Homo sapiens: one gene and its partners. The protein of the gene in region 1 purifies or fractionates together with the protein of each later gene. This does not show direct contact. Each region holds a gene or a part of one and is shown in the gene's direction. Other genes may lie near its edges.

What was found. The genes of interacting proteins can lie anywhere in the genome.
Region 2: the proteins of WDR36 (region 1) and UTP6 purify together in Homo sapiens (affinity purification with western blotting, with the first as the bait; one study listed by BioGRID). This does not show direct contact.
Region 3: the proteins of WDR36 (region 1) and GNA11 purify together in Homo sapiens (affinity purification with mass spectrometry; one large-scale study listed by BioGRID and IntAct). This does not show direct contact.
Region 4: the proteins of WDR36 (region 1) and DUS3L fractionate together in Homo sapiens (co-fractionation; one large-scale study listed by BioGRID). This does not show direct contact.

The regions. Positions count from the first base shown.
Region 1 is NC_000005.10:111,123,348-111,126,847, forward strand, and holds part of WDR36 (WD repeat-containing protein 36), read left to right. Parts: intron 1-457; coding exon 458-577; intron 578-760; coding exon 761-842; intron 843-2,260; coding exon 2,261-2,448; intron 2,449-3,386; coding exon 3,387-3,500. UniProt on the Homo sapiens protein: Part of the small subunit (SSU) processome, first precursor of the small eukaryotic ribosomal subunit.
Region 2 is NC_000017.11:31,874,209-31,877,708, reverse strand, and holds part of UTP6 (U3 small nucleolar RNA-associated protein 6 homolog), read left to right. Parts: intron 1-2,295; coding exon 2,296-2,475; intron 2,476-3,500. UniProt on the Homo sapiens protein: Part of the small subunit (SSU) processome, first precursor of the small eukaryotic ribosomal subunit.
Region 3 is NC_000019.10:3,104,362-3,107,861, forward strand, and holds part of GNA11 (guanine nucleotide-binding protein subunit alpha-11), read left to right. Parts: intron 1-3,500. UniProt on the Homo sapiens protein: Guanine nucleotide-binding proteins (G proteins) function as transducers downstream of G protein-coupled receptors (GPCRs) in numerous signaling cascades.
Region 4 is NC_000019.10:5,788,364-5,792,393, reverse strand, and holds the start of DUS3L (tRNA-dihydrouridine(47) synthase [NAD(P)(+)]-like), read left to right. Parts: upstream 1-1,230; 5' UTR 1,231-1,252; coding exon 1,253-1,350; intron 1,351-2,058; coding exon 2,059-2,347; intron 2,348-2,674; coding exon 2,675-3,187; intron 3,188-3,995; coding exon 3,996-4,030. UniProt on the Homo sapiens protein: Catalyzes the synthesis of dihydrouridine, a modified base, in various RNAs, such as tRNAs, mRNAs and some long non-coding RNAs (lncRNAs). Mainly modifies the uridine in position 47 (U47) in the D-loop of most cytoplasmic tRNAs.

The DNA.
Region 1 (3,500 bases):
TGTCAGTCTGCTTCTGGCTCCAAAGTTCCTTTGGAGAAAAGTAATTTAAGAAACTCTTTTGTATTAAGCATTTATGTAAATTTTGCTTTCCATCCTGTTTTGTGAAAGAGTTTGTACTCAATACAAAAGGAAGTTTAAAATTACTTAATTGTTATATCTTCATGTAAATATATTCATATTTCAGGAAAATGAGCTGTGTTTGTCTTAGAACTTCCCCTGTGCCCTGTCACTTTTTTTCTGCCTTATCGGCAAGGGTGCTAGAGATCTGCATTGGGAAGCCCAAGTTAAGGATAGCTGTGGTATTGGTCAGAAGAGATCATATTTTAACATTCTTATGTGAAAGAGTTTCATTCCTCTTTTACTTTTTGGTATTTGTTTTAAAATTGATTTGAAATTAAATATGAGAAACTGTTGGCAAGATAATTCCTATTTTTCTTTCTCATTTTCTCTTAATCAGAAAAAGAATAAACCAAAGGAACCACCCAAAGTACCCAAATCAGCACCATTTTTCATTCCAACAATTCCTGGCCTTGTACCCAGATATGCTGCACCTGAACAAAATAATGATCCCCAGCAGGTAAAAAACAAATTAGAAGATTCTAAGTATATCGGTGTATGTTTGTATGTGTTTTCTGCACTTCTTTACCAAGACCTAGTTTTACAGATATAGGGTAAATTAATGATAGCTTTTAATTACAAACTATACATTTTTGGGTGATACTTGAATTATTTGAATAATGTGTATTTGTTTTTGTTTAAGTCTAAAGTGGTAAATCTTGGAGTTTTGGCTCAAAAATCAGATTTCTGCTTGAAACTTGAAGAAGGACTGGTAAATAATAAGTGTAAGTTGAATTATAAGATATTTTAACTAATATATTTAGCTTATTTTACTGTATATGAGGAGAAATTGAAGGAAATATCAGCGTTCTCAGTAGTTAAGATAGTAAAAATCAAAAAGATTGAAATTTTGGTTTTAATTTGACGTAATTTTAGCATTTATATTAAATAAGCCCACTAAACTCAAATGGTATTGATATTATAAAAATCTGTTGAAGATTTTTCATATATCTAACTTACTTTTTGCTATTGGAGATGGACACAGTTATTGACTATATTTATAATAAGGAGATCCTTCTTGTTGTGAATTAAATGTAAAAGTTTTGTTTGTCGTTTTTGTAGCAAGTAATTTGCAAGTCTTTTGTTTTTATTTATAATTTGTAATTCAGCGGACTGCTTAGGTGATTTCATATATTCCTAAATTATTTTATTAAAAAGGAAATGTTTTAATCTGTCTGTTGTGTTCATATATTTAAATTTCGAAGGCTACAGTCTGTAGCTAATAGTGATTAGCCATAAGAACTGTAATCATTTAAAAAACTGTAGTCACTCTCCTAATAATTTTAACTTGTCCTCTTGTTTTGATTCAAATGCTTTTGTTTTCATACCGAGATTACTTGAGTCCACATTAGCAAAAGTCAGAGAATGATACTGATGAGCCCTTGTAAATGACTTGTTATGTTTATGGGGAGACAAAGAAATAAAAACACTATTGTTTACTATATACTGAAGGATCTAAAAGTGATTAGACTTTTGTCATTGGTGATACTCTTTTTCAGAAAGCTAAAGCATAGTCATTGCAGTTCTCAAATGACTCATAAAAATAGCTGTAAGTGTACTGAGTGTGTTTTCCTAGGGTGCATATGAAACAATTCTTCTAGGGAAAAGAAGTAGGTTTGGGCTGGGTAAGAATAAGGGATGGGGTCTTCCCCCTCTGATTTTATATATTCTGTACTGTTAGTAATATAGTTCCTAATGATTATGTACTTTTATAACTTTATAACAATAGAAAAGAAAAATTATTTTACCTCATCAGATTCCCAATGCTAACCACTATTAATACTTTTGTATGTATCGTTATAGGCTTCTTAATTAGGATTTACTCTGAGAGAAGATATATGAGCATTTTAAAATTCTAACGTGCCTGTTGCAAGGCATTAGATTTTCTTTATTAACAGGAAAAAGGTTTAAATTACAGAAAAAAAATGTGTTTTGAGTACTTTCTCTTATATTGGTGTCATCGTTTGTACTGATTTTCAATTATTTTGGGTTTCATTCTACTACATAATATGAAAAAATTAACCCACAGGAAGAATTTCCTGTACCATTTAAATATATCCTATTTGGGGTATAAAAGGAAAACTGTAATTTTCTAAGTTAAATGATTATAATCAAGTCATAACTGGATTAAAATTTAATGCAGATGACACTGCTCTCAACCTTCTGAAAGAATCAGGCCCATCAGGAATTGAAACAGAGCTGCGAAGCTTGTCTCCTGATTGTGGTGGGTCCATAGAAGTTATGCAGAGCTTCTTGAAAATGATTGGGATGATGCTGGACAGAAAGCGTGATTTTGAGTTAGCCCAGGCATACCTTGCATTGTTTCTAAAGGTAAGTCTAATGTAAGACAGTACTGCCCAGCTTGTCTTCTTCTGGGGCAGTGCTATCTAACAGAACTTTCTGCAAAGATGGGTATGCTGTATATCCATCCTTTCCAGTATCATAGCCACTTGCCACATGTAGCTATTGAGTTCTTGAAATGTAAATAGTGTGATCAAGAAACTGGATTTTTAATTTTATAGAATTTTAATTAATTTAAATTTAAATAACCGCATGTGGCTAGTGACTACCACATTGGACAGCTAGACAGTGCAGCTTGGGAGTCTTGTTTTGTTTTTTTACTCAACTGCACAATAATTTTGACTTTACCCCCTGACATTTTTATGCTATCTGCTTGATCCAATGTGCTGAACCATTAACTTTTCTTTTTTTAGTGGTTAGTTACATTTTGGAAGTTTTTTGTGATTATGAATAGAAAGTTGGGTTTGTTTGTTTTTTTTTCTACTACTGAAATCAAAATGTTCACTTCTATCATTATTAAAGGAGTTTTGATCATTTGACAATAAGACTGTTACTTTTATGATTAATATAGTGGTGAACTCATGTTTTGAGGGTCTACTTTAGTGGTATAATGTGTTGAAGGAGGTAGATGATGCCGATTTTTGGTGATAATAGATTTGATTCTTTATCCCATTTATACCTAAAATGAGTTCACTTGATCTGATTATTTAAAAGTATCAGGACTGTCCTTAGGTGGAGAGGAGTGATGACCACTTTAATTCTACCAAGGAAGTCACAGTATCATAAAGGACCTTATAATAAAAAAAGTTTGATAGAGGAGGGGAAAATGGGAGATAGTAATAAACCAGCGCTTAAGAAAACAAATATTCACCTAGTGTCTTTTGTGGTTCCTTGGTAGAAAAATTGAATCCAGATTAGGTAAAATTTTAATTTTCTTAAATGTTCAATCATCATATTTTTCTTTGCAGTTACACCTTAAAATGCTTCCTTCAGAGCCAGTACTCCTAGAAGAAATAACAAATTTGTCATCCCAGGTGGAAGAAAACTGGACCCATTTGCAATCACTCTTCAATCAAAGCATG
Region 2 (3,500 bases), on another chromosome or scaffold:
GGCATGAGCCATCATGCCTGGCCAAATTTTTGTATTTTTAGTAGGGACAGAGTTTCACTATGTTGGCCAGGCTGGTCTTGAGCTCCTGACCTCAAGCGATCTGACTGCCTCAGCCTCCCAAAGTGCTGAGATTACAGGCATGATCCACTGCTCCTGGCCGTGCCTGGCTTTCTAACTTGGTCTTTCAGGCGTGAGCCACTGTGCCCAGCCTAGATGATTCATCTTCTGTCGGAAGAAACATATCAAACCGTTTTGTCTCTTAGACTGGAGGCTCTATGGGTGGTAGGGAATGCATCTGATTTGTTCACTATTGAATCTAGCACATATAGTGTGCAATAAAAATGCTTGCTGAATGTACTGATTATATACTGTCATTTAATTTTTCACAAATTTGTACAATTGGATTGTTTTTAGGTTTTTTCTCTTTTTCAAATAATGTAGGTATAAGCATTTTGAACAGGTAAAATTTCCTTTCATTCATGTATTTTTTGGACCATATTTGTTAATGTAGAAGTCCCAAATTGAAGCGTTGAGCACTTTCATGACTCTTGCTACAAACTGTCAAATTGAATTTCAGAAAAATTTGCTTTAGTTTATGTTATGTCCAACTCTGTTTGAATATACCTGTTTCCTTGACACTCCACAAATACTGATTTTGTGGATTGATTTTTGTTTATTGATTTTTAAAATTTTTTTGGAGACAGAGTCTTGCTCTGTCACCCAGCCTGGAGTGTAGTGGCATGATCTTGGCCCACTGCAACTTCCTCCTCCCAGGTTTAAGTGATTCTCCCAACTCATCCTCCCGAGTAGCTGGGATTACAGGCGTGCACCAACACACCTAGCTAATTTTTGTATTTTTAGTAGAAACAAGGTTTCACCATGTTGGCTAAGCTGGTCTTGAGCTCTTGACCTCAGGTGATCTGCCTGCCTTGGCCTCCCAAAGTGCTGGGATTACAGGCGTGAGCCACTGAGCGCAGCCTATTTGTTAATTTTCATCCTCTGTTTGGTGAGCATGTGTTCTGGCATAGTGAACTGTTTTGTTTTTATTTATTTATTATTTTTTTGAGACGGAGTTTCGCTCTTGTTGCCCAGGCTGGAGTGCAATGGCATGATCTTGGCTCACCTCAACCTCCGCCTCCTGGGTTCAAGCAATTCTCCTGACTCAGCCTCCCGAGTAGCCGGAATTACAAGCATGCACCACCACGCCTGGCTAATTTTGTATTTTTAGTAGTGACAGGGTTTCTCCATGTTGGTCAGGCTGGTCTTGAACTCCCGACCTTAGGTGATCTGCCTGCCTCAGCCTCCCAAAGTGCTGGGATTACAGGCGTGAGCCACCATGCCTGGCTGTGAACTGTTTTATTAAAAACTTATATGCTGGGCATGGTGGCTCACGCCTGTAATCCCAGCACTTTGGGAGGCCGAGGTGGGTGGATCATCTGAGGTCAGGAGTTTAAGACCAGCCTGGCCAACATGGTGAAACCCCATTTCTACTAAAATACAAAAAATTAACCAGGCGTGGCGATGGGCGCCTGTCGTCCCAGCTACTCGGGAGGCTGAGGGAGGAGAATTGCTTGAACCCAGGAGTTGGAGGTTGCAGTGAGCCGAGATCATTGCGCCACTGTACTCCAGGCTGGGTTACAGAGCAAAACTCTGTCTCCAAAAAAAAGAAAAAGAAAAACAAAAAAACCTAACTTACAGTCTAAATTCTTTAGGTTCTCTGGTTTTTACGTCTTCCCTGTTTTTGGATAACCCTCATGGGTAGGAGCAGTGAAAATAGGAGAAATTCTAAATTGTTCACTTCGTGCCTGTTTAACAGCCATGGAAAATTTGTTTTGATACCTATAAGTTATCACATAGCTCATTTCTTTTCTTTTTTTTTTTTTTTTTTGAGATAGAGTTGCTCTGTCGCCGAGGTTGGAGTGCAGTGGTGTGATCTCAGCTCACTGCAATCTCCACCTCCTGGATTCAAGCGATTCTTCTGCCTCAGCCTTCCGAGTAGCTGGGATTACAGATGCATACCACCACACCCAGCTAATTTTTGTGTTTTTAGTAGAGACGGGGTTTCACCATGTTGGCCGGGATGGTCTTGATCTCCTGAGCTCGTGATGTGCCCGCCTGGGCCTCCCAAAGTGCTGGGGTTACAGGTGTGAGCCACCACACCTGGCCTCTTTTTTATTTTAAATTGTAGTGGAAAGGTTGGTGAAATTCTTGCCTCAAATGAGGCATAGGTTTACATTTACATAGATTGTTTGGGTTTCAGTAATTAATTTTCCAGTCATCCTTCATCTTGTCTAGAGTGTTTCGTTGCTGTGTTATAACTTCCTGAGGGAAGCTCTGGAAGTGGCAGTAGCTGGAACTGAATTGTTTAGAGACTCTGGGACAATGTGGCAGCTGAAGCTGCAGGTGCTGATCGAGTCAAAGAGCCCTGACATAGCCATGCTTTTTGAAGAAGCCTTTGTGCACCTGAAACCCCAGGTCAGTGAGCTGGATCTTTTGTATTCATTATATTTGGGAAACCTTTTAAGACTAGCCAAGGCTCATTTGGAATGTACTTGTCTATTGAGAGCCAACTCTAGAGTGGCATTTGCTATTCAGTGGTGATGGTTCATAGGTTAAGAGTAGAAGAATTTGCTTCTATTTAATATCCTTTATTTGAAAGTTAACCAAATTAAATAAAACTTCCTATTCTATTTAGATATCTTATAAAGTTAGAAATACCAGTAGAATATTAATGTCACTTGCTGAATATAAGCCCAACCTTTTTTTTTTTTTTTTTTAAGATGGAGTCTCGCTCTGTTGTCCAGGCTGGAGTGCAGTGGCGTGATCTCAGCTCACTGCAATCTCTGCCTCCCGGGTTCAGGCAATTCTCCTGCCTCAGCCTCCCGAGTAGCTGGGACTACAGGCGCATGCCATCACACCTGACTAATATTTTCTATTTTAGTAGAGACAGGATATCTCCATGTTGGCCAGGCTGGTCTGGAACTCCTAGCCTCAAGTGATCTGCCCGCCTTGGCCTCCCAAAGTGCTGAGATTACAGGCGTGAGCCACGGTGTATGGCCAGATTCACTTTGCAGTGAATTTTTTATATTAGTAGGTAAAACGTATTCCAGAAGATAAAGTAGGAAAAAAACTACTGCTCATTTGGTGGTTTTTCCTTTTTTTTGAGATGAAGTCTTGTTCTGTTGCCCAGGCTGGAGTGCAGTGGTGCAAACTTGGCTCACTGCAACCTCCACCTCCCAGGTTCAAGCGATTCTCCTGTCTCAGCCTCCCAAGTAGCTGGGATAAGAAGTGCCCACCACCATGCCCAGCTAATTTTTGTATTTTTAGTAGAGACAGGGTTTTGCCATGTTGGCCAGGCTGGTCTTGAACTCCTGGCCTCAAGTGATCCGCCTGCCTCCGTCTTTAAAGTGCTGGGATTGCAAATGTGCGCCACCATGCCTCGCTTTTGCTGCTCATTTGTACGTACCTCTGGGACATGAATGAAGATCAGATAGTTCAGC
Region 3 (3,500 bases), on another chromosome or scaffold:
GTGGTGGCGTGCTGAGTGTACCTGAGGATGTACCTCCTGCAGGCTCCCTAGCGTCTGGGGTCCACTGTGGGGCGGCCTGTGGCAGGCCCACCAGGAACCATGCTTGCACAGGCAAAGCACCTTGCTTGTGGTTGTGTGGGGGGCTCCCTCAGGTGTGGGAGATGTGGGCCCCATTCTCCCAGGAGCCATGGCTGGTGACATGCAGTCAGGTCCATCCTGACGGGCACTGGAGTGCGGGGGACCCAATGGGGACATGAGGGATCCAGCACTGTGGACCAGGGCCAGGTTCATTTGGTTCGCTCAGGAAACATGTACACAGCGCCTTCTGCATAGGGGCTAGGGATGCAGGTGGGCAGGGCAGCCACAGCCCCTGCGCTCAGGAAGCTGGCGAGGCAGGCTGCAGACGGGCACTGCCACACCTCACTGAGGAGGGAATGGCAGAGCCACCCTCAAAGGGCCTGTGCTGTGGGGGTGCTGGGCGCTTCCTGAACGCCGGGCTCTTGGATTTCTGCAGTGGGGGTTCTCCGGGCGTTTGGGAAGGGGAAGGACCTGATGGAAGGGGTAGTTTATATTTAACTCTGGTGCTGAAGCAAGGGTCGCACACAGCTGCCAGTGCCCACGACGGCCTCCTGGGAGGCTGAGCTCACCAGCTCCAGACCCAGTCTGAGGCAGGAACCTGGGGGTCTCACAGCGGGACCGGTGGTGGGTGTGGCCTCGTGGCAGGGAGGGAGGGTGGGAGGGGTGCATGTGAAGTTGGGTTTGACTCGTCACCCGTGGAGTGCGTGCTCCCCTGCCACAGGCAGGGGCCAGGCAGCATCTGTCCTGCAGGACCCTCCCAGCTGCCCTTTCATGGCCGGACCCCTGGCTGGATCCCTGGCTTCCTGCAGTGTTCTCTTTTCCTAACATTTTGTCACCGTCTCAGTCAGCTCGGGCTGCTGTGACAATACTGCAGGCACAGTGGCTTGTAAACTACCCGAGTTTGTCTCATGGTTCTGGAGGCTGGACGTCCAAGATCAAGGTTCTGTGGATTTGGGGGGTTGGGGGGAAGGGGGGGTTGTGCTTCCTGGTACATAGACAGCGGCGCTGTGGATTTGGTGTAGGGGGTGGTTGTGTTTCCTGGTTCATAGACAGCGGTGCCTTCTTGCTGTGTCCTCATGCGGACGGGATCCCTCCTGGAACCATCAGTGCCCTCATGAAAGAGCCCCCCAAGAGCTCCGTGGCGGAAGAAGCTGATCCCGCCTCCCAACACCACTGTCTTAGGGGTGAGAATTTTAACATAGGAATTTGGGGGGATCACAGACATTCATTGCTATGGGTGGGACCACTTGGTGCGTTGCCCTTGGGGTGGCGGTGTGGTCAGTGGTCCATTCCTGCCCAGCGCCGAGCAGCGGTCTGTGCGTGGGGTCTTTGCACCCGTGCACCTGCTGAAGGGTCTCTGGAGCTTTGGCTTTTTGGCTTTTACGAGTAAAGCTGCCGTGGTGCTTGGTGTGCGGTGAGGAGTGGACAGAAGGCTCTGTCCTGGCAGGTGCCCTGCAGTGGCCTGAGACCGGGAGATGAGGGCCGGCAAGGGGCTGTGGACGAGTCCAGAGTGAGGCGGCATCTCGGAGGGGCTCACACATTGTCTCAGGAGGAGTGGGCTGGCATTTCTTTCCAGTGGGCAGCTGTTGAAGATTTTGGAGCCAAAAGAGCGTTCCAGCTCAGATGTCTTTCAGGTGGAGTGTGGCTGCAGGTGGGGCAGGCTGGGTCAGGGTGGAGCCATGTGGGCTGAGGCCCGAGTTGGGGCTGTGGCTTTGGGGCCACATGGCTGCCGGTCGGGTGGGAGCGAGTCTCTGCTGACCAGGGCCCTGGATGTTGAGCCCCAGCCGCGGGGTGTGAGGTCTCAGGCAGGACCCAGGCATTCAGACATTGGGTCCACTGTGTGTGGACCCCTGCGTCCCAGCTCCAAGACGCTGTGTGACGGGAGGCGGCAGCAGCTGAGTTGGCGCGGGGAGACAGGGCGATTTGAAAAGCAGGCTGGGACCAAAGCATCTTGAAAACCCAAATGTAGTCACGTTGCCTGGCTTGAGTGCTGTCCAGAGCCTCGCCCTTGGCCTCTGTACGGCAGGGCTTAACAGTGGCCAGCACCTCAGGGCCACCAGAGGCCCGGGGCCACCTGGGCCTGGCTTGGCTTCCGGTGGCCCAGAACTCCTGCTGGGCTCCTGCCTCCCTCTGCAACCTCTCCTGGCTTTGGTGGGTTATGTGGGAGACACGAGTGGCTTCACCCAGCGGGAGTGGTGCACATGGGTTAACATGCCAGCCACCCAGCTGTGTACGGGCTGCATGTGTGTGTACATGTACATGCATGTGTGCGTGCACCATGCACGTGTGTGCTGATGTACATGCATGCATACATGTATGTGTGGGTGTGCACGTGTGCATTGTGTGCATATATGCACGTTAATGCATATGTATGTGTGCATGCCTGGGTGCATAGGTGTGAGCCACCTCCCTCCCCCATCAGTGTATCCATATTGCCTCTGCAGAGCTCCATGGGGGTCCTTGGCGAGCCAGGGCTGTGGTTGTCATTTTTGCCTTCCTTACAAAACGCAAAACAGGCCGGGCGCGGTGGCTCACGCCTGTAATCCCAGCGCTTTGGGAAGCTGAGGCAGGTAGATCACCTGAGGTGAGGAATTTGACACCAGCCTAACCAACATGGAGAAACACCATCTCTACTAAAAATACAAAATTAGCCAGGCGTGGTGGCGCATGCCTGTAGTCCTAGCTACTTGGGAGGCTGAGGCAGGAGAAACACTTGGGCCCGGGAGGCGGAGCTTGCAGTGAGCCAAGATTGCGCCACTGCACTCCAGCCTGGGCAACAGAGCAAGACTCCATCTGAAAAAACAAAACACAACCCCAAACAGTAGTACCGAGCCAGTTCTCATCTGGGCAGTGACCTGTGGCGTTTCAGACTCCTTCTCGGCCGTCTTGGTCTTCCCGGCATCCTCGCTGAGAGCTGAGGCTTGCTTTTCTGTTTCATAGTTGAGATGTTTATGGCCTGAGGGACCTTGTGTCTTGGGTGCAAAGTTACCAAGGGGCGGCGCCTTCTGACCCGAGTGCAGGGCCCTCCTCGCCTCCTGCCTGCAGCATGGGGCCTGTGCTGGGGTGCAGGCTTGCAGTGTGTGCTGGTCTCGTGTCAGGTGTGGCTTTCAGTGTGTGTGAGTGTTTGCTGTTTCCAGGTGAAACACCCTTCCAAACAAACACGGAGCAGCCATCTTTTGTAATAGCATTTTGTTAGACATAGAGTCTCATCTGGGGGCAGTCTTGACCCATGGGACACTGGCACTGTCTGGGGACATCTGTGGTGGTCACAATTCGGGGGGGTGCTCCTGAGATGGAGTGGGTGGGGGCCAGGGTTGCTGCTGAGCACCCCTCAGGGCCCAGGGTTCAGCACCGGTCAGTAGAGCTGAGGCCGAGGATCCCTGGCCTCAGATTGCATCCCCTCCATGCCACCGCCCTTCTCT
Region 4 (4,030 bases), on another chromosome or scaffold:
TAGCACAGCATCTGGCATACAGATGCTCAACTAATTATTTGTTGAAACTAATGTCCTGCATAAAAGTAGTGTAATTTACTTTTTTTTTTTTTTTTTGAGATGGAGTCTTGCTCTGTCGCCCAGGCTGGAGTGAAACGGCCGATCTCGGCTCACCGTAACCTCCGCCTCCCAGGTTCAAGCGATTCTCCTGCGTCAGCCTCCTGAGTAGCTGGGATTACAGGCGCCCATCACCATGCCTGGCTAATTTTTGTATTTTTAGTAGAGACGGGGTTTCGCCATGTTGGCCAGGCTGGTCTCGAACTCCTGACGTGCCCACCTCGGCCTCCCAAAGTGCTGGGATTACAGGCGTGAGCCACCACACCCGGCCTTATTTATTTATTTATTTAGAGACAGTCTCGCTCTGTCCCTCAGGCTGGAGTGCAATGGCGTGATCTCAGCTCACTGCAACCTCCACCTCCCGGGTTCAAGCGATTCTCCTGCCTCAGCCTCCCAAGTAGCTGGGATTACAGGTATGTGCCACAACGCCCAGCTAATTTTTTATATTTTTAGTGGAGACGGGGTTTCACCATGTTGGCCAGGCTGGTCTCAAACTGCTGACCTCAAGTGATCCGCCCGCTTCGGCTTCCCAAAGTGCTGGGATTACAGGCGTGAGCCACCGCTCCCGACCCCTAATTTACATTTTTAAAAACCCTAGCAGGGGCCGGGAACCATGGCTCACGCCTGTAATCCCAATGCTTGGGAGGCCAAAGTGGGAGAATCGCTTGAGCCCAAGAGTTCAAGATCAGCCTGGGCAACCTGGCAAGACCTCGTCTCTACAAAAAATTTAAAAATTATCCAGGCCTATTGGTGCATGTCTGTAGACGCAGCTACTTGGGAGGCTGAGGTGGGAGGATAGCTTGAGCCCAGGACGAGGCTGCGGTGAGTCGTGATCGTACCGCTGCACTCCAGCCTGGGCGACAGAACGAAACCGTTTCAACAGAACAACAAAGACAAAAACCTCCAAAACACCCTAACAGTTAAATTTCCTCAGTCCAGAAGCTGATTGCAGTCCAGTTCGCAATTGGCCAGGCTCTAGTTTATATAGGACCTGAGGCTCCACCCATGTGCAGGCACCGCCCCCGTGGCGTCACGAGCGAGCAATGGCGTCATTGGAACGACATGAGCATGCGCACTTCCCCAGCACAATCAGGGAAGACACGCGTGACCCGGAAGGTCTTCCCGCCACACTCCAGAGCGGATGTGAGGGGCGCCGATGGCGGAGGGAACGGCGGAGGCTCCTCTAGAGAATGGTGGTGGTGGCGACTCGGGAGCCGGAGCTTTGGAACGAGGAGTGGCGCCCATTAAGCGTCAGTGAGTCGCCGGGGCAGGAGGGAAGCTGAAGGGCCTTTTCCGGCACCCATAGCGCGGTCCGAGCTGTGCATGCCGGGAGATTAGGCAGCGGCTGAGGGCGAGAAGCCACCGGCTCTTCATTCCGGGCCGTTCTTCCGCCTGCAGGGTGGTCAGCGGAGGTACCTGAGATCGTGCACGTTGGGGCCTGTCACATGCGCGAAGGACACCACGTGCATGCTAGGGCAGGTGGGATTTGAGGCCAGGCCCGCGCTGCATACTGGGGATTGTAGTCCCTGCATATGGACGTACGGCGCATGTGCTCTGCCAGCGGCCGTTACTGGCGGGTCTTGGGGTTGAAGCGAGTGCCGCGGGGCGTGCTGGGGCCTGCGGTGTTTGAAGGGCCGAAAGGCGTGCTGGGAAATGTGGTGGCTTAGACTCCGCTTCAAGGCATGCTGGGAATTGTAGTTTTTCGCAGCCTAACGTGCGCAGGGACGTTCTTGACTGAACCTGATAATAGTTTCGCGCAACACTTTGGACAGTGAGGACCCAGGGACAAAATAGGTCTTTTTTGAGGCCGTGAGGGGCTCCCAGGCTGGGAGCTGGCTGGTTCTTAAGTAGTGAGCTCCCCATCAGCAGAAGGATTTAAGGACGTGCAAGTGTTTCTAGCCTCCTTTCCCCAGTGTTTATTGACTATGTTCGGAGGGTTTTCCTTTCCCTTTCTGTCGGCAGATACCTCACCACCAAGGAGCAGTTTCACCAATTCCTGGAAGCCAAAGGGCAGGAGAAGACTTGCCGGGAAACCGAGGTAGGAGACCCTGCTGGCAATGAGCTGGCTGAGCCTGAGGCTAAGCGGATCCGACTGGAGGATGGACAGACGGCGGACGGGCAGACGGAGGAGGCAGCAGAGCCCGGGGAGCAGCTACAGACTCAGAAGAGGGCCCGGGGACAAAACAAGGGCCGGCCCCATGTGAAGCCCACGAACTACGACAAGAACAGGCTGTGTCCCTCCCTAATCCAGGCAAGTGCGGCCACGTGAGCATTCCTGCCGGGGCAGGCAGGAGCAGGGTGTGTTTCCTGGCAGCGGGTAATTGTTAGAAAGCTCCTGGGCCTTCAGCAACGAGCAGTGAGCTTGCTCTGATGCCATTCCGTCTTCATTCTCCTCGGGATACATTGTAGGGCTTGTCATTGTTCTCATTGTATAAATGGAGATGCAGAGGCACGGTGAGGTGCCTGACTTGCTCAGGGACACAAGAGCCAGGAGGGGTGATCTAGAGTTTGAACCCTGGCTGCTGGGCTGCCCCGGGGTCTCCCTGTCCTCCCTCACTGCTTCCCTGTTTCCTCGCAGGAGTCGGCTGCTAAGTGTTTCTTCGGTGATCGCTGCCGCTTTCTGCACGACGTGGGGCGCTACCTGGAGACCAAGCCGGCCGACCTGGGCCCCCGCTGCGTGCTCTTCGAGACCTTCGGCCGGTGCCCCTACGGCGTGACCTGCCGCTTCGCTGGGGCCCACCTGAGGCCCGAGGGACAGAACCTGGTGCAGGAGGAGTTGGCGGCCCGCGGGACCCAGCCCCCGTCCATCCGCAACGGCCTGGACAAAGCCCTGCAGCAGCAGCTGCGGAAGCGCGAGGTCCGCTTCGAGCGAGCTGAGCAGGCCCTGCGCCGGTTCAGCCAGGGCCCCACACCCGCTGCCGCTGTCCCCGAGGGCACGGCAGCCGAGGGCGCTCCCAGGCAGGAAAACTGTGGTGCCCAGCAGGTCCCCGCAGGGCCGGGCACTAGCACCCCTCCCAGCAGCCCCGTGCGGACCTGCGGGCCCCTGACGGATGAGGACGTGGTCAGGCTGCGGCCCTGTGAGAAGAAGCGGGTACGTGTTGAGGACAACGTCAGTAGCAGATCTGTCCATCTGGTGTGCGTCTATTAAATACCAGCTGTGTCCACGTTCCTGTTCTAGCTGCCTGGGAGTCAGAGGCTGTGTGCCTTGAGGGAGCTCCTGGCTGAGTCTCCCTCTCTGTGCTCTGTCCTGGGCCCAGCCCTCAGGAGGTGGGGACAGAAAGAGCTGGACAGGGCCGGGGGCGGTGGCTCACGCCTGTAATCCCAGCACTTTGGGAGGCTGAGGCAGGCAGATCATTTGAAGTCGGGAGTTCAAAACCAGCCTAGCCATCATGGTGAAACCCTATCTCTACTAAAAATACAAAAATTAGCCGGGCCTGGTGGCGGGCACCTGTAATTCCAGCCACTCAGGAGGCTGAGGCAGGAGAATCACTTGAACCCAGGAGGCGGATGTTGCAGTGAGCCAAGATTGTGCCACCGCACTCCAGCCTGGGCAACAGAGCAAGACTCTATCTCAAAAAAAAAAAAAAAAAAAGAGCTGGACACACTCTAAGTCTCAGAGGGTCAGGGTCGGGCAGCGGGGGACAAATGTGGGAGGCTTCCTGGAAGAGGGGGCATTGGGACTGGGTTTGGATGGTTAAGTAGAAGCTCTCCAGTGGAGGAGACGATGAGGAAAGGAACATTCCTGATGAAGGGATTGATTGGCACATGCAGAGGCCCAGCAAAGGAGCCAGACCATTTGGGCCAAGTGTGTCCTAGACTGTGGGTAGAAGGGAGGCTCCAGGGCCTCAGCAGCTGGGGTGGAGGCCAAGCTCCACTTGTGTGTATTTTTTTCCCTCCAGCTGGACATCCGTGGCAAACTTTACCTGGCCCCCCT